Linked DNA regions of Homo sapiens. The protein of the gene in region 5 purifies or fractionates together with the protein of the main gene of each other region. This does not show direct contact. Each region holds a gene or a part of one and is shown on either strand. Other genes may lie near its edges. The genes, in order: CUX1, PLOD1, DEDD2, THADA, TRIM40, USP8 and RAP1B.

Evidence for each region.
Region 1: the proteins of TRIM40 (region 5) and CUX1 purify together in Homo sapiens (affinity purification with mass spectrometry, with the first as the bait; one large-scale study listed by BioGRID). This does not show direct contact.
Region 2: the proteins of TRIM40 (region 5) and PLOD1 purify together in Homo sapiens (affinity purification with mass spectrometry, with the first as the bait; one large-scale study listed by BioGRID). This does not show direct contact.
Region 3: the proteins of TRIM40 (region 5) and DEDD2 purify together in Homo sapiens (affinity purification with mass spectrometry, with the first as the bait; one large-scale study listed by BioGRID). This does not show direct contact.
Region 4: the proteins of TRIM40 (region 5) and THADA purify together in Homo sapiens (affinity purification with mass spectrometry, with the first as the bait; one large-scale study listed by BioGRID). This does not show direct contact.
Region 6: the proteins of TRIM40 (region 5) and USP8 purify together in Homo sapiens (affinity purification with mass spectrometry, with the first as the bait; one large-scale study listed by BioGRID). This does not show direct contact.
Region 7: the proteins of TRIM40 (region 5) and RAP1B purify together in Homo sapiens (affinity purification with mass spectrometry, with the first as the bait; one large-scale study listed by BioGRID). This does not show direct contact.

Annotation. Positions count from the first base shown.
Region 1 is NC_000007.14:102,195,126-102,198,625, reverse strand, and holds part of CUX1 (Homeobox protein cut-like 1), read right to left. Parts: intron 3,120-3,500; coding exon 3,023-3,119; intron 1,993-3,022; coding exon 1,321-1,992; intron 1-1,320. UniProt on the Homo sapiens protein: May be involved in intra-Golgi retrograde transport.
Region 2 is NC_000001.11:11,972,717-11,976,037, forward strand, and holds the end of PLOD1 (procollagen-lysine,2-oxoglutarate 5-dioxygenase 1 isoform 2 precursor), read left to right. Parts: intron 1-155; coding exon 156-281; intron 282-1,936; coding exon 1,937-2,092; 3' UTR 2,093-2,821; downstream 2,822-3,321. UniProt on the Homo sapiens protein: Part of a complex composed of PLOD1, P3H3 and P3H4 that catalyzes hydroxylation of lysine residues in collagen alpha chains and is required for normal assembly and cross-linkling of collagen fibrils.
Region 3 is NC_000019.10:42,198,098-42,200,677, forward strand, and holds the end of DEDD2 (DNA-binding death effector domain-containing protein 2), read right to left. Parts: intron 1,733-2,580; coding exon 1,341-1,732; 3' UTR 501-1,340; downstream 1-500. UniProt on the Homo sapiens protein: May play a critical role in death receptor-induced apoptosis and may target CASP8 and CASP10 to the nucleus. May regulate degradation of intermediate filaments during apoptosis.
Region 4 is NC_000002.12:43,589,539-43,593,038, forward strand, and holds part of THADA (tRNA (32-2'-O)-methyltransferase regulator THADA), read right to left. Parts: intron 3,353-3,500; exon of another isoform or gene 3,306-3,352; intron 2,879-3,305; 5' UTR 2,855-2,878; coding exon 2,779-2,854; intron 2,509-2,778; coding exon 2,414-2,508; intron 1,417-2,413; coding exon 1,286-1,416; intron 1-1,285. UniProt on the Homo sapiens protein: Together with methyltransferase FTSJ1, methylates the 2'-O-ribose of nucleotides at position 32 of the anticodon loop of substrate tRNAs.
Region 5 is NC_000006.12:30,139,140-30,142,639, reverse strand, and holds part of TRIM40 (E3 ubiquitin ligase TRIM40), read right to left. Parts: intron 1-3,500. UniProt on the Homo sapiens protein: E3 ubiquitin-protein ligase that plays a role in the limitation of the innate immune response. Mediates inhibition of the RLR signaling pathway by ubiquitinating RIGI and IFIH1 receptors, leading to their proteasomal degradation.
Region 6 is NC_000015.10:50,476,405-50,479,904, reverse strand, and holds part of USP8 (ubiquitin carboxyl-terminal hydrolase 8), read right to left. Parts: intron 3,057-3,500; coding exon 2,912-3,056; intron 2,630-2,911; coding exon 2,406-2,629; intron 1-2,405. UniProt on the Homo sapiens protein: Hydrolase that can remove conjugated ubiquitin from proteins and therefore plays an important regulatory role at the level of protein turnover by preventing degradation. Converts both 'Lys-48' an 'Lys-63'-linked ubiquitin chains.
Region 7 is NC_000012.12:68,655,899-68,659,398, reverse strand, and holds part of RAP1B (ras-related protein Rap-1b isoform 1 precursor), read right to left. Parts: intron 3,094-3,500; coding exon 2,950-3,093; intron 2,299-2,949; coding exon 2,212-2,298; 3' UTR 2,182-2,211; intron 120-2,181; 3' UTR 1-119. UniProt on the Homo sapiens protein: GTP-binding protein that possesses intrinsic GTPase activity. Contributes to the polarizing activity of KRIT1 and CDH5 in the establishment and maintenance of correct endothelial cell polarity and vascular lumen.

The DNA.
Region 1 (3,500 bases), on a different chromosome or scaffold from region 5:
CGCAGAGGCCGTGGCTCTGCTGCAAAAGGAGATGGGGGAAATCTAAGTAGCGACCTACGGCATTGAGGCCAGGGAGGTCCATGGGAGGGAGGACTGCCTTGAAGGAGGATCACCCGCCAGCCCCCAGAACAAAGCTCGCATTAATCATCCAAAGACATTCAATTTCGGTTAACATCCTCATAAAACACTGCATTTTCTTGGTGCAAATTGATGCTGTTCAAAACATCTCCCTGCTCTGTTTGAGTCTAAATTTCAGGGTGTTTCAAACATGTCTGATGAAATGACCTCTCAATAGCTCTGTTGATGTGGCACATTGATCCCCTGGTCTTAAACAGAAAAGGAACTTTCTTTTTTGTTTTTTTATTTGAGGCAGGTTCTCACTCTGTTGCCCAGACTGGAGTGCAGTGGCTCAATCATGGCTCACTGCAGCCTCCACCTCCTGGGCTCAAGCCATCCTCCTGCCTTAGCCTCTCAAGTAGCTGGGACCACAGGTACACGCCACCACGCCCAGCTAACCTTTTGATTTTTTTGTAGATCAAAAGATTACAAAATATATGTTGCCCAGGCTGGTCTTGAACTCCTGGACTCAAGCGATCCATCCACCTCAGCCTCCCAAACTGCTGGAATTATAGGCGTGAGCTACTGTGCCCGGCTGGGATTTTTTGAAATTATGAATGTGACTGACATTTTATCTTTTTACGGAGGGTGGGGTAGAAAGGGTGCTTAAATAAAACTTTTGTGTATTTTACTCAAGCCAGGCCTGTTTTACTCATAATGCTAAACAAATCACTAATGGACCGTGAACAATGTAGGGAAGGTGGCCATGGGACACGCCCTCTTCTGCGGGGTGGGAAGAGGGGAGGTGTCATCTGTGATGTGTTCTCCCTACAGAACCAGCTTTGCATGAGGATCGAGCCCAGTCAACGTTGCTGCTATGGGGCTGGAGGGGACTTAAGGGCTCCTCCCAAAAGTGAGACCAGCACCCAAGGCCAATTGGACCCGCGGCCACTAAGCATACGGAGACGCTATACATCATGTAATGCAATTCCCTCTGATACGATCTCTAGTATTGAAATACTATAGGGTTTCCTAAGTATGGAGTGCTGAGTGCGTTTCAAAGGCCAGATCTCCCAAATCTAACAGCCTTAACTCATGCCGGGCCACCCTTGAGCTCTGGACGTGGCAGAAGCAAAGAGAACTTTACCTGATGTGATGCACAAATGTTTCATCACGCACACAGACACACGCACGCATGCACACACACATGTGCAACTCTGTGACGGGCTCGCACGCTGGCGCCACCCAACGCCAGTCTCTCACCTCTTTGTCTGCCTTGGATGCTACGGAGGGCCAGGATGTTCTGCTCATCGGAGAGGAACTGTTTCATCTTGTGAAATGGCTCCTTGCCACGAACAGTCAGTTTATTCCATGGCTTGGGCCGGGCCAGAATCTCGCTCACGGACCCTTGAGACAGTCCCAACACATAATGTCCGAAAATACGTTGTCCGATATTGTGCTTAATCAGCTGCTCTTTGACCTGCCGGGCGATTTCTGCAGTGTCCATCTCCTCGCCCTCGGAGACGCTCCCAGCACTTTCTGACTGGCTGGGGGATGGGGCCATGCCATTGACATCTGGGCTTTGTTGTAATGGACTTTGGGAAGATATGGAGTTTGTGCTGTATGGACCTGTTGAAAAAATCATGCTTGTGCTTCCGGCTTCCTGCATAGCCTTGGAGTAGAAGGACTGCATTAGCTGCCGCTGGAGAAGAGAGTTTAGTGCAAATTTTCCTGTAGAAGCCAGGGGTAGGCTGGGGCTTGCCAGGGATGAGCTGAAAAAGTCTTGACTTAACCCCGCTGGTGAGAACTGGTGTGTACCATTAGTATTGGAAGCCTGCTCCCCCGGGTTGCGGGGCAACTGAGAAGGAGGGGGGGCCGGCAAAGATCCCGGGCGCCGACTTTCAGGCTGGTCTTTCCCTTTCCTCCTGGCTGACCCTACAAGGAAGGGCAAACAGAATGCATTATGGGGGATTCCAAAGGGGGAAAAAAAAACCAAGACCAAAATGCAAAAGTTTGCCCCCGCAAAAGGGAAAACAAAAAAAAGTGCAGGTTTTTTTTACAAGGGCCAATGAGGTGGGTTGGTTTGTTTTCCGATTAAATTTGTAAGTCAGCCAAACGAGGCTTCCCAAAACAAGCAACATGCATTCATGTTTGCGCCTTTCTTGTACGTTGCAGCCTGGAGAGTCCCCTTGACATAGACTCAAACTCCTAGCGTGACAAGGAGCTGGTGACACACACAGGGAAGAGTTGACGGGTCGCGGGCCTCTTACTGGGCCCGCTGGCCCCGGCCGGAGGAGCAGCAAACACTGACATTTTAGGACCAATGGATTCGCTCGCACCTCTTGCTCTGAGGCGATGCACCGTACCGAGCCCCCTCGATGTGGAGGCGCGCGCCCGTTTTGAGAATGCAATACCATTAGAGCCCGAGACACCTGTACGCGTTTTACCAGCTGCCCAAACCAGAAGCACAGTCAAGTGACGCCACCATTTGGGGGATGAGCCAAGAAAGGCTAAGGATGGGGGACGCGTCCCCAGGGGAAACCTGACCAAGGAAGAAAAACCTCTACTGGACCCGGCAGGCCCGGGGCTGTCCCTGAAAACACCACCAGAGCGAGGCTGGGTTCACACTGCCCCTGGCCTCTGTGCAGCACAACCAGACACAGATCAGAAAGGCCGACGTCCTCCGAGCTGTCCCTCCCGGGGATTCCAGCCGCACTGCCCCTAACTGACCTCCGCAGAGCCTGTGCGGCTGGCCCGTCTCGACATCCAGCTTTAAGCAGGGCGGGGAAGGGAAGGGAGGAGCGGTGAGGAGGAGGGCACCCAACACGCGTTAGTCAAAGGTTCTCGTCAACCGGCGCTTCTCTGGCCATGCATCTGTCCAGACTCACGATTCACCTTCCTCGTCCTCGACCGACCCCTGGAAGCGAACCAACCACCGCACACGCGCGAAGCCCGGCCAACCTACCGCTCAGGTCGCTGTTGGAGATGCGCAGCGCGGCGTTCTCGGACTGCAGCGAGCGGTTCTTCTCCAGCAACAGCACCTCCAGGGGCTTGGCCGCATCCTAGAAGGGGCAGAGCGGGGGTCTCACTGCGGGGCCGGCCACTCACCCGCTCCCGGGGCCACCAGGCCTGGAGCCCTGCCTCCCTCCATCTGTCCGCGTTCCCACCCAGCTCTCGATCTGATTAGGAAGTGGGCTGCGGACAGCTGATTTCCCCCCAAGTCGTTTAACACACGTGGAAAACAAGTTCCCTTTAGAAAGAATGGATTCTAGTTGAAGTCATTTTCCTTCTTAGACTTCCACAGCTCCTAAAAAAATTAATTATTCTCTCATCTGTTCTCAAACTCAAGCGACCTGAGCCCGTGCCTCATTTGGCCATAAGACTGGCTGCCAAGCCACAAACGTCTGTCCGAACGTTACTGTAAAGGGAACTTTTCTTTTTTT
Region 2 (3,321 bases), on a different chromosome or scaffold from region 5:
TTGCAGGCACTCGAGCATAGAGCCCCATGTAGACCTGGCCCCTGTAAGCTGACCTGCAGCAGGCCAGACCAGGCCCCATGTGTGCACCCTCCTCTCCTGGCCTTTGTGTCCTCCTTAACTAACACGGGCTCTCTTGTCCCCCTGCCTTGGTACAGGCCCAGTTTGACCTGGCCTTTGTCGTCCGCTACAAGCCTGATGAGCAGCCCTCACTGATGCCACACCATGATGCCTCCACCTTCACCATCAACATCGCCCTGAACCGAGTCGGGGTGGATTACGAGGTGAGCAGGAGCCAGCCGGGGTCAAGGGGCCGGCAATGGGGATGAGGAGGGCTAGCTGAGGAGAGGCTTCAGGGTGGTTGAGGCAGAGGGGCCCCAGGTAACCAGTGCCAGAGAACCAGAAAAAAAAGGATGTGGGTCTGTGGGAGGGCTTCCTGGAAGGGTTCACAGTCTAGCAGGAGGAGGGGCCAGGCTCTTAAGCTACTATTTTAAGAGATTTTTGGGCTCGGCATGGTGGCTGATGCCTGCAATCCCAGCAGTTTGGGAGGCCAAGGCAGGCAGATCACTTGGGGCCAGGAGTTTGAGACCAGCCTGGCCAACATGGCGAAACCCCATTTCCACTAAAAATAGAAAAATTAGCTGGGCGTGGTAGCACACACCTGTAATCTTAGCTACCCAGAAGGCTGAGGCATGAGAATCTCTTGAACCCAAGAGGTGGAGGTTGCAGTGAGCTGAGATCATGCCACTGCACTCCAGCCTGGGCAACAGAGCGAGACTCTGTCTCCAAAAAAAACAAAAAGAGGTTTTTTGAACTTAGCCCTGGGCTGGGTGCTGTGGAGAACACTCATAAAAACAGCTATAATCCTTTTTTTTTTCTTTTTCGAGACAGGGTCTTGCTCTGTCACCCAGGCTGGAGTGTAGTGGCATGATCACAGTTCACTGCAGCCTCAACCTCCTGGGCCCAAGCAATCCTCCCACCTCAGCCCCCCCAAGTAGTTGGGACCACAGGCGTGTGCCACCATGGCCAGCTAATTTTTTTTCTTGCTTTTAGAGATGGGGTTTCACTATGTTGCCCAGGCTGGAGCTATAATTTTTTGAGAGCTTACAACAAACATATCAGGCATCCCTAATCCAAGGATTCTCAACCAGGAGCAACTGTGGCCTGCAAGGGACATTGGCAGTACCTGGAGACATAATTGGTTTTTACAACTATGAGGGGCTACTGGCATCTAGTGGGTAGAAGTCAGAGATGCCCGGGACAGCCTTCCACAGCAAAGTGTCTATAGTGGTGAGGTTGGGAAGCTTGATCCTCAGCTCTCAATTGTAACATCTCATTTAATTCTCACTATCCTGTTCTGTTTAACCCTCATTTTACAGAAGGGGAAACTGAAGCTCAGGTTGGTCACAGTTAGTAAAGAGTGGAGGTGATGTCTGCCCAGGGCTGCCTGACTCCAAGGACAGAGCTCTTGATCACTTACTCTTTGGGTTTTTTTTTTTTTGAGACAGTCTCATTCTGTTGCCCAGGCTGGAGTACAGTGGCGCGATCTCGGCTCACTGCCTCCTGGGTTCAAGTGATTCTGTCTCAGCTTCCCGAATAGCTGGGATTACAGGCGTGCGCTGCTACACCCAGCTGGTTTTTGTATTTTTAGTAGAGATGGGGTCTCACCATGTTGGCCATGCTGGTCTTGAACTCCTGACCTCAGGTGGTCCACCCGCCTTGGCCTGCCAAAGTGCTGGGATTACAGGCGTGAGCCACCACTCCTGGCCACTACTCTTCATTTAGTGTCTTCCTTAGCAGCGCTTGTGGCTGTCACTCCAGAAGGCATCCCCAGGCAGGCAGTGCTGAGGGCCACTTGGCCATGACAGGAGATCATGACGGGAGAACAGACGGGCAGGGGGGCGGTGGGGAAAGGCCACTGATGCTTTCTGTCTCCCAGGGCGGGGGCTGTCGGTTCCTGCGCTACAACTGTTCCATCCGAGCCCCAAGGAAGGGCTGGACCCTCATGCACCCTGGACGACTCACGCATTACCATGAGGGGCTCCCCACCACCAGGGGCACCCGCTACATCGCAGTCTCCTTCGTCGATCCCTAATTGGCCAGGCCTGACCCTCTTGGACCTTTCTTCTTTGCCGACAACCACTGCCCAGCAGCCTCTGGGACCTCGGGGTCCCAGGGAACCCAGTCCAGCCTCCTGGCTGTTGACTTCCCATTGCTCTTGGAGCCACCAATCAAAGAGATTCAAAGAGATTCCTGCAGGCCAGAGGCGGAACACACCTTTATGGCTGGGGCTCTCCGTGGTGTTCTGGACCCAGCCCCTGGAGACACCATTCACTTTTACTGCTTTGTAGTGACTCGTGCTCTCCAACCTGTCTTCCTGAAAAACCAAGGCCCCCTTCCCCCACCTCTTCCATGGGGTGAGACTTGAGCAGAACAGGGGCTTCCCCAAGTTGCCCAGAAAGACTGTCTGGGTGAGAAGCCATGGCCAGAGCTTCTCCCAGGCACAGGTGTTGCACCAGGGACTTCTGCTTCAAGTTTTGGGGTAAAGACACCTGGATCAGACTCCAAGGGCTGCCCTGAGTCTGGGACTTCTGCCTCCATGGCTGGTCATGAGAGCAAACCGTAGTCCCCTGGAGACAGCGACTCCAGAGAACCTCTTGGGAGACAGAAGAGGCATCTGTGCACAGCTCGATCTTCTACTTGCCTGTGGGGAGGGGAGTGACAGGTCCACACACCACACTGGGTCACCCTGTCCTGGATGCCTCTGAAGAGAGGGACAGACCGTCAGAAACTGGAGAGTTTCTATTAAAGGTCATTTAAACCACTGAAGGGAAGATGCTCAGGGCGAGTGGGTGTGTGTGTGTCTTGGTGTGAGTGTCTGCAGGGAGAGAGGTTTTAAGAGCCCTCTTTTTTTTTTTTTTTCTTTTTTTGAGACAGAGTCTCACTCTGTCTTCCAGGCTGGAGTGCAATGACGCTATCCCCGCTTTCTGCAACCCCCGCCTCCTGGGTTCAAGTAATTCTCCTGCCTCAGCCTTCCGAGCAGCTGGGGCTACAGGCACCCATCACCACGCCTGGCTAATTTTTGTTTTTTTATTAAAGAAAGGGTTTCACCAGGTTGGTCTGGCTGGTCTTGAACTCCTGACCTCAGATGATCCACCCACCTCGGCCTCCCAAAGTGCTGGGATTACAGGCATGAGCCACCGTGCCCGGCCAAGAGCCCTCTTTTTAGAGCCTTTAAGAAAGGTCATGCTAGCCTCTCGACCCCTGAGTAGCTGGGATTATAGGTATCCATGCCTGACACATTTTTGTATTTTTTGTAGAAAC
Region 3 (2,580 bases), on a different chromosome or scaffold from region 5:
CTGGGAGGCGGAGCTTGCAGTGAGCTGAGATCATGCCACTGCACTCCAGCCTGGGCAACAGAGCAAGACTCCGTCTCAAAAAAAAAAAAAAAAAAAAATTCCTGGGAGCCCCCAAGGACATACAGGAGCAAAGCATGTGTGAACATGGTTGGAAGGGTTTCTGACTCCGAGGCAGTATTCTATTTCTTCCTTTGACAGAGGACAAGACTGACACCCAGAGGGGAGGACAAGCGTGTGGTTATCAGCTGGCATATGGTCCAGCATCCTGCCCACACTCCAGTCCCTAACGCTGGGCCAGGAACACTCCTCCTCCCAGCCCACTGAGGTCCAAAAGCTGGGCATGGTGACGGGCACCTGTAGTCCCAGCTACTTGGGAGGCTGAGGCAGGAGGATCGCTTGAGCCCAGGAATTTGAGGCTGGCCTGGGCAACATATCAAGACCCTCAACTCTAAAAAAAAAATTTAAATTAAATAATAAATAAAGAGTCCTAGAGAGGCCGATGCCCACCTATGCCCTTTCCAGGGCAGTTTAATTGGTATCATTTGTAAAAGGTCTTTTCCATCACCCCCAAAGCCTTTGCATTCCCTTTCCAAGAAGGTGGCTGTTTACTGGTTTTGGCCCCATGTGCAACAGTAGGCCTTGGTATGATGCTGCCATAACACTCCCATGTGACACTCCAGGTGACATCCAAGTGCAAGTCTATGTTCAGCTCTGGACAGCAGGGGGGAAGGTGAGGAGAGTCAGGTCTGTAAATTGAAGCTGGGCAGGGCCCTGGCTGGCTGGAGATGTGTGGGCAAGGTGAGCAGGCCCCATGTGCACCCCAGCTCCAGTGCCCACTGATGTGGCTGAAGCCCAGGTTGGTTGTGGTCAAATTAGAGGTCCTGAGAGAGAAGCCCTTAGGCCAAAGAAGTGTGTGCTGGGAAGCAGGCCAGGGCAGAGGCCCAGGGAAGATCTCAGCAGGGGCAGTGTGAGCATGAGCGAGTGTGTGCACCTGTGACAGTGCAGACAGCCCAAGATCAGAGATACAATGTGCAGGGGGGCCTTTGGTGAGTGTGTAGCTGTGCCCCTCCCTTCTGAGATACAGGCCCAGCCCCCGCCTCCGGAGGCTAAGGGGGCACACCTGGGGGTAGGAGGAGTCTGGGAAGGAAACTCAGCTGGAAATGGTTTAGGCCTCAGAGCCCACATCCTGTGGGAGGGGCTGTCAAGGGGCCTGCTGTCCCGGTCCTGTCGCAGTCCTCAAAGATGCTAGAGTGACAGTCCTCTAGGGGTAGAGATGGTCGTCCTCCCAGGAGAAGGTGGCCCGGAGACTTGGAGGTGGGATCAATCCTGCCAGTCCTGGATCAGGAGGCCTCTGTCGGGCGCCGCCCCCCTTCCTCCTCCATCAGCAACAGGCGGCGCCGGCCAGCCTCATAGTCAGCCTCATCCACACTGACCAGCAGGCGAACAGCCTCCCGGCCCACAGCCTCTCGCAGGGCCTCAGTCAGGAACACGCCCCGCAGGGCCTGCAGCAGGGCGCCACTCAGGTAGTCGCCCCAGAAGGCGTCCAGATAGGAGAGCTCTGAGAACTTGATGTCACAAACCACAGAGCCCAGGTCCCTTGAGCGCAGCACTGCGGTGGCCTGCCCAAACACGTCCAGCTGCCGCGCCAGCGCCTGGGGCCGCCGGGATGCCACGCCCTGCTCCAAGGCTGGCCCATGCTCGCAGTACTCTGCTCGAACCCGGAGCCGGATGTCTGCAGGGGAAGGAGGGATTTGTCAGGGAGGGGGCCAACACTAGACACACTTATGGGGAACGCCACCCTTCCTCCCTCCAGCCTTCTCCCTCCACCCCCTTCCGGTAGCCACACCCTAGTCCTGACACAGCCTCCCCGGCTCTGTGGGGTTCCCTGACCAAGTACGTCCTCCTCTTCTCCAGCCCACCACCTCCTCACTGCTCCAACAAGCCTCCCCACCGCCAGGGGTGCTCTTTCCCTGGATCTGCACAACACTTGCTCCCTCTCTTCCTGCAGGTCTTTGCTCAAAAGCCACCTTGCCAACAAGGCCCACCTAGGCCAACCTATTTACAGCTGTAACCACCCACCCAGCCCTCTCTGCAGCATGCCAGGTCCCACACCCTGCTCCATTTTTGTCCAAGGCACTTATCACCTTCCAACCTCCTCTGTCAGTTACTATCTGCTCATTATCTGTCTCTACACTCAGCATGGAGAGACAGATGACAGCAAGGAAGGGGTTTTTGTCTGTTTTGTTCACTTGTGTAACTGTGGCACATAGTAGGTGTTCAATATGTATTTGTGAAGAACTAATGCATGAACTAATGGACTTGCCTTAAGGCAACCAGCCTCACACCCTGCCCCCAAACAATGAGATTCACATGGTGCCAACCACATCCCCATCCCTCCCATCCACCTGAGCCAGCACTGCGGATGCGCAGGGTCCTGACCAGGCCCGGGAGGCTTGCGGCTGGACCTGTGCTGGCTCTACTGGGAGTCAGGTACTCTCTTGCCACAGAGCTGCTAAGATGATGGGTTGGAAGCCCAGAGCTGCTGGGAGCCACTGTGCCAAGAGGAGAGAAGGAAGCCTA
Region 4 (3,500 bases), on a different chromosome or scaffold from region 5:
ATGAATACACTTAACAATAGCGAACTATGTACACTTAAAAATGGTTAAGACTCAAACATCATATGTTCTCACTCATAAGTGGAAGCTTATCTATGAGGATGCAAAGGCATAAGAATGATACAATGGCCTTTGGAGACTCAGGGGAAAGGGTGGGAAGGGGGTGAGAAATAAAAGACTACAAATTGTTGGGTACAGTATACACTGCTCAGGTGATGTGTGCACCAAAATCTCAGAAACCACCACTTATTCATGTAACCAAGTACCACCTGTTGCCCAAAAACCTATCGAAATGAAAATTAAAATTTAAAAAAAAAGAATTCATAAAAAAAAAAGGTTAAGACTGAGTTTTTATGTTATATGTCTTTTACTACAATTAGGATTTTATGACATGGAAATATCTCTAAGACATTCTTTAGTGAAAAAACAAGCTACAGAGCATTCTGTAGAGTATAATCTCGTTTACAGATATATATAAAAAAAGTAGAATGTAACACACATATGCTGACCTCAAAGAGAAGGTCTAGAAAGATAAATACCAAAACGGTAAGTGACAATCTTTACTAAGAAAAGTAAGATAAGCCCTAAACAATGAAATGGAAGCCTTAGTTTTTATTTTGTATAGTTCTATATCATTTGAAATTTTTATACCAAGCCTATATTCCTGTGTTATCTGTGTAAATATATATTTAAACCAAGAACAGATAGGACAAAAAGAGGAAAAAACAGCAAGATGACATTTAAACATAACCAATAAATGTAAATGGATTGAGGCAGGAGTAAGCAAACTACAGCCCACAGCCTGTTTATTAAGCATGTGACCTAAGAAGGCTTTTTATACTTTTAAAAAGTTGTAACTAGGCTGGGCGCAGTGGCTCACACCTGTAATCCCATCACTTTGGGAGGCTGAGAAGGCGGATCACAAGGTCAGGAGATCAAGACCATCCTGGCTATCATGGTGAAACCACATCTCTACTAAAAACACAAAAAATTAGCCGGGTGTGGTGGCTGAGGCAGGAGAATGGCGTGAACCCGGGAGGCAGAGCTGACAGTGAGCCAAGATCGCACCACTGCACTCCAGCCTGGGCGACAGAGCTAGACTCCGTCTCAAAAAAAAAAAAAAAAAAAAAATAGTTGTAACTAATCAATGAAACAGAGAACAAACCATATGAATGAACTTTTTGTGATCTGTATCAGTTCAGTTTTATCAAACCAAGGAAGGAACTTCAGTTACTTTTGGTCAAATTCAACATTTATAACACCCAACTTCCCTTCCTTTTTTTCTTACCTTGCCAATACTTTCTTCAAGGGATTCTTTAGACTCAAAGAAAGATAAATGCCTGCTAAGATATCCAAACAACTTTGAATAGTGGGATCACACATGCCATTTTTATCTGCTTTCTCCAGCAGAGGCACAATCTATAATACAAAACATTGAAGTAATTTTTATAATATCAAATATAGCAAAGTAACATGGTTACAGATACTCTTTGAAGTCTCAATTGCTGGGTACAGTGGCTCACCCCTGTAATCCCAACACTTTGGGAGGCTGAGGTGGGCAGATCGCTTGAGCCCAGGAGAGTTCGAGACAAGCTCGGGCAACATGGTGAAACCCTGTCTCTACAAAAAAATACAAAAATTAGCCAGGCATGGTGGCACATGCCTGTAGTCCCAGCTACTCAGGGGGCTGAGGCAGGAGGATTGCTTGAGCCCAGGAGGTTGAGGCTGTGGTTGAGCCAAGATCACACCAGTGCACTCCAGCCTGGGTAAGAGAGTGAGACCCTATCTCAAAAAAATAAATAAAACAAAGTGTCAATTACGTGAAATGTTTTCCATACTCCACTGTCAAGGATACTGATTTAAACACCTATTTCACTATTTATTAACTTTTTAAACTCATGTCCCCACCTCCCTCTTTACCCTCCAGACCCACCTCCACAGAGAATCACAGACCTGTTAATGGCTTACAGTAAAGAACAGCTGTAGCACTATTAAAAAACCAGTAATACATTTACTTGCTTTCCAAAAAAAAAAACTATGTGTGCTCAAATGGTAAATCCTAATACTGAAATACTAATAAGTATAATCTTTATATTTTAAATTAACTTTTAAATGTGTCTGCTAAAAAGTTTTGAAGATTCATATATTTTAAAATTTATCTCCACAAAAGAGGTATGCACATTATCTTCTACCTTATCTGTTTACAGTTCAATTATGATAGAAGTCTGAATATGGCTTCTATTGCTGCTTTGAATACAAGGATATTATACAATAAACAGAAAAAAAAAAATACTTATTTGCTAATGATAAACTGATATGCAATAATTAGGGACCAAAAACTGTCAGTGATTTTTTTTAAATCCTTAATAGCATGATACTCTTAAAGATGCATCCATGAATATCAATTCAGACTTACCTGTTTAATATAATGGATTTGTGACACTCCATCCGTGAGTTGCACACAATGTAACAGCAAAGAAGCTAGATTTTTCCCTTCCACATCAGCAAAAGCTATATAACATATACAAAAAAAAATTTTCAATGATTTAACAGTGAGTTAACTTTGCCTTTGTTGTGCATTCTACAAAATTTTTTAATTATAAACCATAGCAATAGGTGGAACATAGTCTGAAGACAGAATTTTAAGAAAATTGTTTTACATCCAAAACATAAGGAAAAATATAAAGAATTTGAATATTATATGCTAGGGGTCCCAGTCATTAAAATACTCTGCTTGCAAACTAGAAAAAAATATAATAAGGGAAACCAGAAGTCACCTACATTTCAAAGTTTCAAGGTCCTGATGGCAAATGGTCAGCGCAGCAACTTGCATTTCTTTCTTCTTCTTTACACCCATTTTAAATAGAATTAATAGTAGTCACTGCAAGAAAGAAGACTTTAAGGCATTAATGTAAGGTTTCTCAACCTCAGCACTATGATTTTTGGCTGGGTTCATTCTTTGTTGAACAGTATCATCCTATGCATTATGTTTCATGCATCCCCATCTCTACCCACTAGATGCCAGTGGCACCCTCCTCCCTCCCAAGTTCTGACAACCAAAATATGTCTCCAAACACTGTGAAGTGTCCCCTGGGGAGCAAAACTGCTCCAGAATGAGAATCACTGTCTAAGAATTTCTGATTTGAAGAAGAAAAATGTTTTAAGCTGAAGCTTATTACTGACTGAAGTTATTTTACCTACTATGACTCAGTCTTTGTATTTTAAAATACAGCAAACTTTCCTTTTAGTGAACATACACACAAAAAAACTGGGATAGTTTTTCCAAAGATAAAATACTTCAAACTAACCTCAGTGACTCATTAGACTAAGAGGAGGTACTACCGTGTCCTGATTTCTGCAAAAATGAAAAAAAATATTTTTTTAATGCTATTCTCTTGAGTTTGCTTTTATCGATACTTAACAAATCAACGGGTTCATAACAGGCTAAACAACCCAACTCAGAGACTACACAACTACACACTAATAGTACCATGCCATCTGGA
Region 5 (3,500 bases):
ACAAATTTCTGTGTATTTAAGACATGGAGATTATATTATAAAAAAGAATAGAGCCAATTTAAATGCAAATTTCTAAAAAGTTGCCCAAAAATATAATTAAGAAGAAATAACAGAATAAAAAAATGTAGGTTAAACAAACACAACTAATGGAGCTCATTATCCAAAAGATAAACTATTTTGATGCAATCATGTAGAATTTATGCCCTGATTCTAGGGGAAAATGCAGACAGCGAGTCTTCATGGATAAAAGCCTCACCACTACTAGCATTCATAATCAAGCAAAGTAAAACAACGTACATCACTGTCACACACTTACTAAACCAGCAAAATACATTAAAGTGATTGACACTGACATTGACTGGTCAGTGAGGAAACAGGTATACAAATAAGAATTTGTAGATTTTATAAATTTTTCGGTCTTTTTAGAGTACAGTCAGGGATTATATGATTCTTTTAAAAGAACAAAATTTACAATACTTAACTACAAAGTTTAATTCAAATAAATAGAGATATGGTGAAAAAATCAGTAAAAAAAAACCCTCCTTAATTTCAAAATTACGCTGTCAATATCCATGAGTACACATAAGGTCCACCATTATAATCACTTCTTCAGAAATATACTCAACTCCCTTACCCTCCCTCTCTGTGTTACTTTTCAGACAACTCCTTATCCATGGTAAAATGTACCATCACCTTCTTGTTTGCTGTCTGTCCTCAGGCAGCCTCCTGAAACATGTTAAACATTTCAGACCTCAAATTGGTGCTACATACTGTCTGCCAACCCTACATAGTTTCTCTTGTAAGCGCTCTCCCACACTGCATCACACCATCTTGTTTCTTTTCAAACCTTTCACATCCATCCTGATCCCACCCATACTGCTGATGTTCCTTCCTCAAATATTATGAGAAAATAAAAACCAGAACAAAACCTGGATTTCCAAAACTGCAAAACTATGTAGGCTTGCAGACACCTTCTCTTGTTCCCTGTTATTACTATGGAAGAAGTGTGCCTCCTCCCAACTCAGCTCTCATGCCTCTGCCACCATCTTACTGAAGTGTTAGCATTGTTCAATGCAATCTATTATAATCTCTTAAAATACCCTTCTCTCTTAGCAGCTGGGGCACCATTCCCCTTGTTTTTCTCCTGCCTTTCTGGCAACTCATCCTGTCTCCTTTGCTGGGTCCTCCTCTGCCTACATCTAAATGACGGCCTTTCCCAGAACCTTACCCCAAAACTTCTTTTTCTGTCTAGCCTCTTTTGAGGCAATTACATCAGTTTCCTTGGTTTCTTGGTTGTTTGTTTCTTTGTTTGAGACAGGGTCTTGCTCTGTCTTCCTGGCTGCAGTGCAGTGGCACAATCACAGCTCACTCCAGCCTCACTCTCTTGGGCTCAAGCAATCCTCCCACCTCAACCTTCCAAGTAGCTGGGACCACAGGCGTGAGCCACTGCACCCAGCCCCAAATTGTCACGTTCTTTTTTTTAAATCCTGTTAATTTCACTTTGTTGTTGCTGTTGTTGTTCTAGAGATAGTATCTCACTGTGTTGCCTAAGCTGGTCTTGAACTCCTGGGCTCAAGCGATCCTCCCACTTTGGCCTCCCAAAGTGCTGGGACTACAGGTGTGAGCCACCGTGCCCGCTTTTCTTGGATTTAAATATTGTCTTTGCCTGGATGGATCTTTGTTCTAGGTTCTAGGAATAAGACTCTGGAGATCTAAATTTGTGATCCAGCTGCGTATGTAAGATCCTATTTTGATGTGTCTCAACTTGGACTCAACTTGTCTTAAATGAAACTCTTGGTGTTGCATTCAAACCTGTTCTACCAAGTTATTATCTTTCACATCATCTATTCAGTTTCTCAAACCAGAAACTCATGAAGTCATCTTTGACCTTCCTCCTTCCTTCAACCCACTTTTTAAAATATATATACTTTAAGTTCTGGGGCACATGGACAGAACATGCAGGTTTGTTACATAGGTATACACGTGCCATGGTGGTTTGCTGCACCCATCAAACCGTCATCCACGTTAGGTATTTCTCCTAATGCTATCCCTCCCCTACCCCCCATCCCCTCACAGGCCCTGGTGTGTGATATTCCCCTCCCTGTGTCCACGTGTTCTCATTGTTCAACTCTCACTTACGAGTGAGAACATGTGGTGTTTGGTTTTCTGATCTTGTGTTAGTTTGCTGAGAATGATGGTTTCCATCTTCATCCACGTCCCTGTAAAGGACGTGAACTCATCTGTTTTTATGGCTGCATAGTATTCCATGGTGTATATGTGCCATATTTTCTTTATCCAGTCTATCGTTGATGGGCATTTGGGTTGGTTCCAAGTCTTTGCTATTGTGAACCATGCCACAATAAACATACGTGTGCATGTGTCTTTATAGTAGAATGATTTATAATCCTTTGGGTATATACCCAGTAATGGGATTGCTGGGTCAAATGGTATTTCTGGTTTTAGATCCTTGAGGAATCACCACACTGTCTTCCACAATGGTTGAACTAATTTACACTCCCACCAACAGTGTAAAAGCGTTCCTATTTCTCCACTTCGTCTCCAGAATCTGTTGTTTACTGACTTTTTAATGATTGCCATTCTAACTGGCAGAGATGGTATCTCATTGTGGTTTTGATTTGCATTTCTCTAAAGACCAGTGATGATGAGCATTTTTTCATATGTCTGTTGGTTGCATAAATGTCTTCTTTTGAGAAGCGTCTGTTCATATCCTTTGCCCACTTTTTGATGGGGTTGTTTTTTTCTTACAAAGAACCCACTTCTAATCTCTCAGTAAGTCCTGTCGATTCAAACTCTAATGATAAATTCTTCAAATATAACAAGACTTCTCAGGTGTGGGCATCTGTATGCACTCCCTACCCCCTGTCTTTGCAGGTTGATTTCTCTTCTGCCAGCCCTCAGCTTCAAGGTCACTTCCTCTATGAGGCCCTCACTGACCAAATGGACATGGGCCACCCATTACTGTTCATCCCAGACCCTTGTTTATTTTCTTCCTAACTAATAAAAAGTTACAGTTCTTTTGGGAGGCCAGCGCAGATGGATCATGAGGTCAGGAGTTCAAGACCAGCCTGGCCAAGATGGTGAAACCCTGTTTCTACTAAAAATACAAAAATTAGCTAGGCCTGGTGGTGGGTGCCTGTAATCCCAGCTACTCGGGAGGCTGAGGCAAAGAATTGCTTGAACCTGGGAGACGGAGGTTGCAGTGAGCCGAGATCATGCCACTGCTCTCCAGCTTGGGTGACAGAATGAGACTCCATCTCAAAAAAAAAAAAAAAAAAAAAAGAAAAAAAAGTTACAGTTCTTTGATTACTTATTTGTGTCTCCCTTACTACACTGCAAACTCCTGGCAGAAGGAATGGCATCTGTCTTCATTGATTCCTAGCACATGCTGCAGTTTCTCACACACAGCAGGAACTTACTAAGTTTTTACTTAATGAACAAGTGTCATCGTTATTTATTTGTTTTAGCTTTCTTGTCATTAT
Region 6 (3,500 bases), on a different chromosome or scaffold from region 5:
TGCCTATAATCCCAGCTACTCAGGAGGCTGAGGTGGGAGGATTGCTTGAACCCAGGAAGTCGAGGCTGCAGTGAGCTGTGATCACGCCACTGCACTCCAGCCTGGGTGAGAGAGTGAGACCGTTTTCAAAAAAAAAAGAAAAGAAAAAGAAAACGAGGTTAGTGTAGAAAAAATAATTTTTTTCCTGTTCACTTCTCTTTCTGCCTCTTAAAAAAAATCCTTTGTCTTTTTTTTTGCATGTATTTGAGAATAAAGTAGGAAGAACCACTATGGGGATGAGGTTAACAATAAGAGGTGGAACAGAAACAAAAATAAATGTTGTTTCCATTTACATTTTGGTGGCTTGATCTATTTTTCCCTAATTTTAAAAGTATAGTTATGATCATGTTACTCTCAAGTTTAAAATTCTTTAATGGTTCCTTGTGCCTACAGGACAAAATTCAAATTTGATCCAAGTCTCTCTTGATGACTCTTGTCCATCCTTCTAATCTTATCTACTATCATAACTTCCTCTCTCCAACAGAGACTAGCGCCCACATATGCCAAAACTGTTCACTGGCCCCAGAGCATGCCCTATGCCTTTGGTCATAGAATTTTCTACTTGTTTCTTCTATCCTCCAATCCTACTCTTAAAGCCCAGATAAAATACTGTCTCCTCCATGAAGACGTCCTTGATCTTCTCAGCTAGAATATTCTCCTTGCTCTGTGCTCCAGTGCCTTGTAGAGCAATTATGATATTCTGCCTTATGCTGTGGCTGATTTTATACAGATCTCTCCTTCCAAACATCAGAAGAACCCATCTCTTGTATATACAAACTTTCATGCTGTCTTATTTTTATTTTTATTTTTTTTTGAGACAGAGTCTCACTCTCACCCAGGCTGGAGTGCAGTGGCCTGATCTCGGCTCACTACAACTCTGCTTCCTGGGTTCATGTGATTCTCCTGCCTCAGCCTCCTGAGTAGCTGGGACTGCAGGCACGCACCACCACGCCTGGCTAATTTTGGTATTTTCAGTAGAGATGGGGTTTCACCATGTTGACCAGGCTGGTCTGGAACTCCTGACCTCAGGTGACCCACCTGCCTCCGCCTCCTAAAGTGTTGGGATTACAGGCACGAGCCATGGCACCCAGCCCTCATGCTGTTTTTTATATAGAAGATCTTCAAAATATGTCTGAAAATTGTACGTATCTCATAAAGTTATGTTGGGACACAAAAGGATTAGCGTTTAAATAGATTAAGTTGAAAGGAAATGCAATAACATAGAGAAGCTCTTTTTAGACTTTCCTAAATTCACCCTTTAAGAAAAGTTGTTTAATCACATCTATTTAGTCTGCAATTTATTCTGCAATACTAAAAGACCTTAAAAAAATGAAGAAATGAACCACTTCAGTTTATAACAAAAAATTACCAGATTTTCTATTCAATACCTGCTCCACAAATCAAACGTCATCCACTTTAAATGTGAAATACTGTTTTAAATATATCTGGGGAAAAAATTAAAAATGAATGCTAAAAAATGTTATTGGGAAATGCATGGAGGGGGAACATTAGTTAACCTTTCTTTAAATAAAGCCAAATGAAGGATATAAAAACTAAAATTTTTTTATTTGTAATGTCTTGGTTATTTAAAAACTTTTACATGATTATTGTTAAACATGCCTGTTATTTGCGTGTCAAATTCTAAGGAAATGAAACTAAAGCACTGTTTTAAAACCAAAATACTGACATCACATACCTATCATATGTAAGCCAAGCTATTTATGAAAATAATATGGGTCAAATTATAATACAAAAAATCCCAAAAGGGCTATTCTAATTCACTGTGATAATGCAATCTTTCATTGGCATTGTTTGTAGCAAATGGATCGCCAACTGGCTTGGAAACCCCTTAATTATCTACTCTAATATAGGCGTGGCGGTAATGCTGAATTATGATGAAAAATTTTTAAACAAAAAATTTATCAAAACATACAGACTGTTCTCATCGATACTTTTTTCTAAGATGTTAAAGGTTATATATTAAACTTCGTTTCTATACTATGTATTTAATTCTTTTTTTTTTTTTTGAGACAGAGTCTTGCTGTCACCCAGGCTGGGGTGCAGTGGTGCAATCTCGACTCACTGCAACCTCCGCTTCCTGGGTTCAGACAATTCTCATGCCTCAGCCTCCCAAACAGCTGGATTTATAGGCACCCACCACCATGCCCAGCTAATTTTTGTATTATTAGTAGAGAGGGGGGTTTCACCATGTTGGCCAGGTTGGTCTCAAACTCCTGACCTCAGGTGATCTGCCCCTCTCAGCCTCCCAAAGTGCTGGGATTACAGGCGTGAGGCACTGTGCCCAGCTATACTATATATTTAATATTAAAACAAAAGCGAGAATAATGTTAAAATCAAGAACATACCTGTGGAACATTCTTTATACTAGGCACTGGCTGAATTATGGGTGAAACATCAGATTTAGAAGCAGCAACTGGTTCAACTGGAGTTGATATATTCAGTGGTCCCATTCTCTCATTTTGACCACTTATCAATTCTATATTTTCATCTACTTCTATAGATGCAGGTGGCGTCTGGGCAGCAGGTTTAGAAGGAATTGATTCTTCCAATGAGGGATAAGTAAAATCCACTAAAATTCCAAAAATAAAAATGTTTTTTAGAATAGCAAACCCCATACACAGTACTTACATTTCTCATGCGTGTTAATGCAGTAATTAAATGTAAACTAAGTGAAAAAACAATTACAACAGTCTTAAAGAAAATGTGAACTTCCAGGCTTATATTTTTATGCCTGAAAACAAACTGCTCTCTAATAGGACAAATACACACACAACCAAGAATGTTACCGGGAAAACAATTTTAAACCATATTTTACCAAAGCAATTTTAAACAAAAATTTTCACATACATACATGAGATAGACACCTCTTCATTCTGGCGTCGTGGGGGTGGAGTGACCTTAGCATTTGTTGTATACTGGGGATAACAAAGGAGCCAGTTTTCATAGCCTCCCTCTAAAACCAAAGGCTCATTGCGCAGGACAGTTTTACTTTCCCACTATAAATAAGGAAATCATATTTTAAATAGGGCAGCAATCTTTCAACAGCTAAAAACACAACAAATCTAAATTTTAAAGTTGTTCCCTTAAGGACAAAATTTATCTTCTAAATAATGACAAAATGAGAACTGAATTCAAAATTCAACATTAAATGAAATGGTTATATAGGTGAGGTTTTAAAAACCATACAAATAATCAATGATCTTAGAAGAAAAATTAGAAAATAAATTACTAAATATAAAACAAAAATGACCCATAACCTCACCACCCCAATACCACTTTACATTCTGGAGTTTACTCTTATAGAGAGTTTTCAATAAAACCTTTATGATGTTGCTTTTCTATGAACATCTTTCATCACTATAGAGCTATATCATCATTTGCAATGCTAGGTAATATTCGACTACTGGTTGACTGATTGACAAGGTCTCACTCTATCACCC
Region 7 (3,500 bases), on a different chromosome or scaffold from region 5:
ATAGTAGCTTTCATCCGCCTCTTAAAGGGTACCACCACAGGAAAGTCCATTTAAGATGTTGGTAGGTTTAACAAAGTTGGAATGCTGGCACTGTTGAATTGGGCAACAGTTCTTCAGACCTGTCAAAAGGAAAAAAATTAATTAAAAACATGGGCTAGAAAAAGTAAAGACCCAAAAGCAAACAGTTAAGAAAACAGTCTTAAAAGTGTTAGAAATGAATATAATCTAGGCTCTTGTTCTAGGCATTACATTAGTGGCAACATACCACAATTCACGGCAGACCTTTTCATTCCAAAAAGATGAAGTCTATTCTGCTGCCCTCTTGAAAGTCAGTTAAATGAAAATCTTAGGAACAGAAAGGGAAAGTACCTTTGTGCAAATTTTTGTGCATTACCTTCCAAGGATTAAAAAGGAAAAAAATCACATTAAAATTGTTAGTCAAGTCAACCTTATTAGAATTAGGATTGAAAAGTCAGATAGCAATATTAACAAACTGGGTGATCCTGTGTTTACACAATCGTAATGTACTCCTAGAATTAGATCATAAGTATAGAATGCACATCTAACCAAGGTTTCTAGTATCAGATAATCAAGTTCTTCCTCACTCTTTCAATGAAAGTGGCTAAAAAGCTCGTTCAGAGCAGACAAATAGAATTTATTTCATGATGGTGTTTTACAGATTTACAATCACGTTATATAATTTCTAATTCCATATTTAAACATTCTATTAAGACTGATGTCAGAAAAAGGTGGTATTACACTAAAATCACATGTAATTAAAGATTTTAAAAAGTAAACTTAGAATTGTTAAATATGTACTTTGAATAGTTTTCTGCATACATGCCTCGGCTAAAAAAATGTTCCCTATTATATTTTTCTGGTGATCAGACTTGTTACAAGCTCCAGAAGAGTTGTTAATACATATGTGGCTGTTGAAATAATTTTCACAAATGCCTAGAACTTTAGGTCCTCATTCTGAGTCTGAATGAGGTTTGCAATCAAGTTTTCTAAATCCTGGCAGACTGTTGCAAATTAAAAAGGACAGATGGAAGTGTGTGAGCTCAAGCACATGTGTGCTGCTAAGAATGGGCATGTGGTCAGGAATTATAGGATATTAGAATGAGAGGATATACCACTAAACAGAAAGCCCTAGATGGAAGGCAGGAATAAAAACTCTGAAAAGATGCAGAATCAAAGTGCTATGGCAGCACTGAGTCAATTAACATAGGAAGAAATAAGAGTCAGGAATGTCAAAGGTTCTTAAGAATAAATTAACAGTTTAACAATAAACAGTTTAATGACAGCTGAAGAGGAAACCATTATCATTGGCAAACAGCAGCAGCTAATAGTTGAGTGTTAACTATGTGCCAGGTACCGATGCAAGATCTGTGCAGCAAACCCCATGGTACACCTTTACCTATGTAACAAACCTGCACATCCTGCACATGTATCCTGGAACTTAAAAGTTGAAGGAAAAAAAAAAAAGTGGCACATGATGAACATGTCAGGGGTGTGTGTGTGTGTGTGACTGGCACATGATGAACATGTCAGGGGTGTGTGTGTGTGTGTGTGTTTTAAATTAGGGACGGTTGGCTGGGAGCGGTGGCTCACGCGCACGCGCGCACGTGTGTGTGTGTGTGTGTGTGTGTGTGTGTGTGTGTGTGTGTGTGTGTTTTAAATTAGGGACGGGGTTGGCTGGGAGTGGTGGCTCACGCCTGTAATCTCAGCACTTTGGGAGGCCGAGGTGGGCAGATCACGAGGTCAAGAGATTGAGACCATCCTGGCCAACAATGGTGAAACACCATCTCTACTAAAAATACAAAAAAACTAGCCGGGCGTGGTGGCACGTGCCTGTAATCCCAGCTACTCGGGAGGCTGAGGCAGAAGCATTGCTTGAACCTGGGAGGCGGAGGTTGCAGGGAGCTGATATTGCGCCACTGCACTCCAGCCTGGGTGACAGAGTGAAACTCCATCTCAAAAAAAGAATACTTATGTGAAATACTTTACTCATGATGATAAGTAAATAATTAATAAGATAGCATACTAACTCATGGATATCTTATAAAAATAAACCATTTATTTTTCAGAACCAACAAAAAGAAGTCTATACTTGCTTTCATGACAGAGTGCCCTTAATAAGGTTGAGTGATTAAAAGTTAGAGGAAAGATAAGTGAACATACCTGGCTCAGAGCTACAATGCATTTAGTATATTAAAGCAGCTGACATGATGACTTTTTGCGAGCCTTCCCAGGCACTGGAGTTTTTCTGTTAATTTGCCGCACTAGGTCATAAAAGATCTGCAAATACAATAATTTGTTTTAATTTACAGGAGGAACACCTATCCCCCCCAATGAAAAAAGTAAATTGAAAAAACAGAAATTTCCATGGATATAAATTAATGCCCAGAATTGTTCAGCTAAGGAATGAGAATAAAATCAGGTGTTATAACTGCCAAGCTCAAATTTTTGGGGAGTGTTAATATTGTGCTCCTTAAAATACTTAGTTGAAGGAGCTGCAGAGATCTTAACTTAGTTCAATTAGAACATTTACCATCACACAAAGAAAAAATCCTTTTAAAAACTGTAAGTTTTTGCTCTACAACATGACTTGGAGCCTTTCAAGAACCATGCATACTTTTCGGAATTTTACTCTATTTTTCATATAACATCCTTCATATACCTGAAGTCTTAATCTGTCTTCCCTATCCATGTATTTTCTGTCCAGTCTTCCTTTTTCATGGTAAATATCAATGTACAAGTATTTAATAGAGACTGAAATAGTATTGTTTATTTACTACATAGATACATTTAACATGAGGGTTTTTTTTTTTTGCCTGTAACATCAACATATTACCCTGAGTACATATTAACTTGGGGTTAAGACATTTTCCATTCATCTTCAATGTTGTACTTCAAATGAAGACCCATTTTAAGTATATTTGACCATACCTCATTAACATTTATTTTTGATTTTGCAGAAGATTCTAAGAATGCACAGTTGTTCCATTGTCTTGCTAGATTTTGACCTTGTTCCTTCCCTACAACTCTTTCATCTTCCAAGTCACACTTATTACCAACAAGAATCATTGGAACCTAAAAATACATTTGTGAGAGTAAAAATAAATAAGTAAATATGCTATATGAATTCAAATCAAAAGAATTCTAAGAGTCAAATCTAAGAATTACTTTTCATATGCCACAAAAAATATTAAATAATGTATAATAAAATTTACAGCCTTAACAATTTAATCTGTAACATAAACATAAGTATTAACTTTGATGTCAATTATCTCCACTGCCTTCTCTTTTCATGGAGATGCAAACGATAACTCCAAAGGGAAGAAAAGAGAGAAAGAAAACTCTCATATGTTAAGTAAAATGAACACAACCTAGTCAATGTAGACATAAATAAGACACTTTTACATAAACTTTTGAGAAAACAAGCTATGATCCTGTTATGAGAGATGGGGGGAAAAAACCTTAAAATTTTATCATAATGG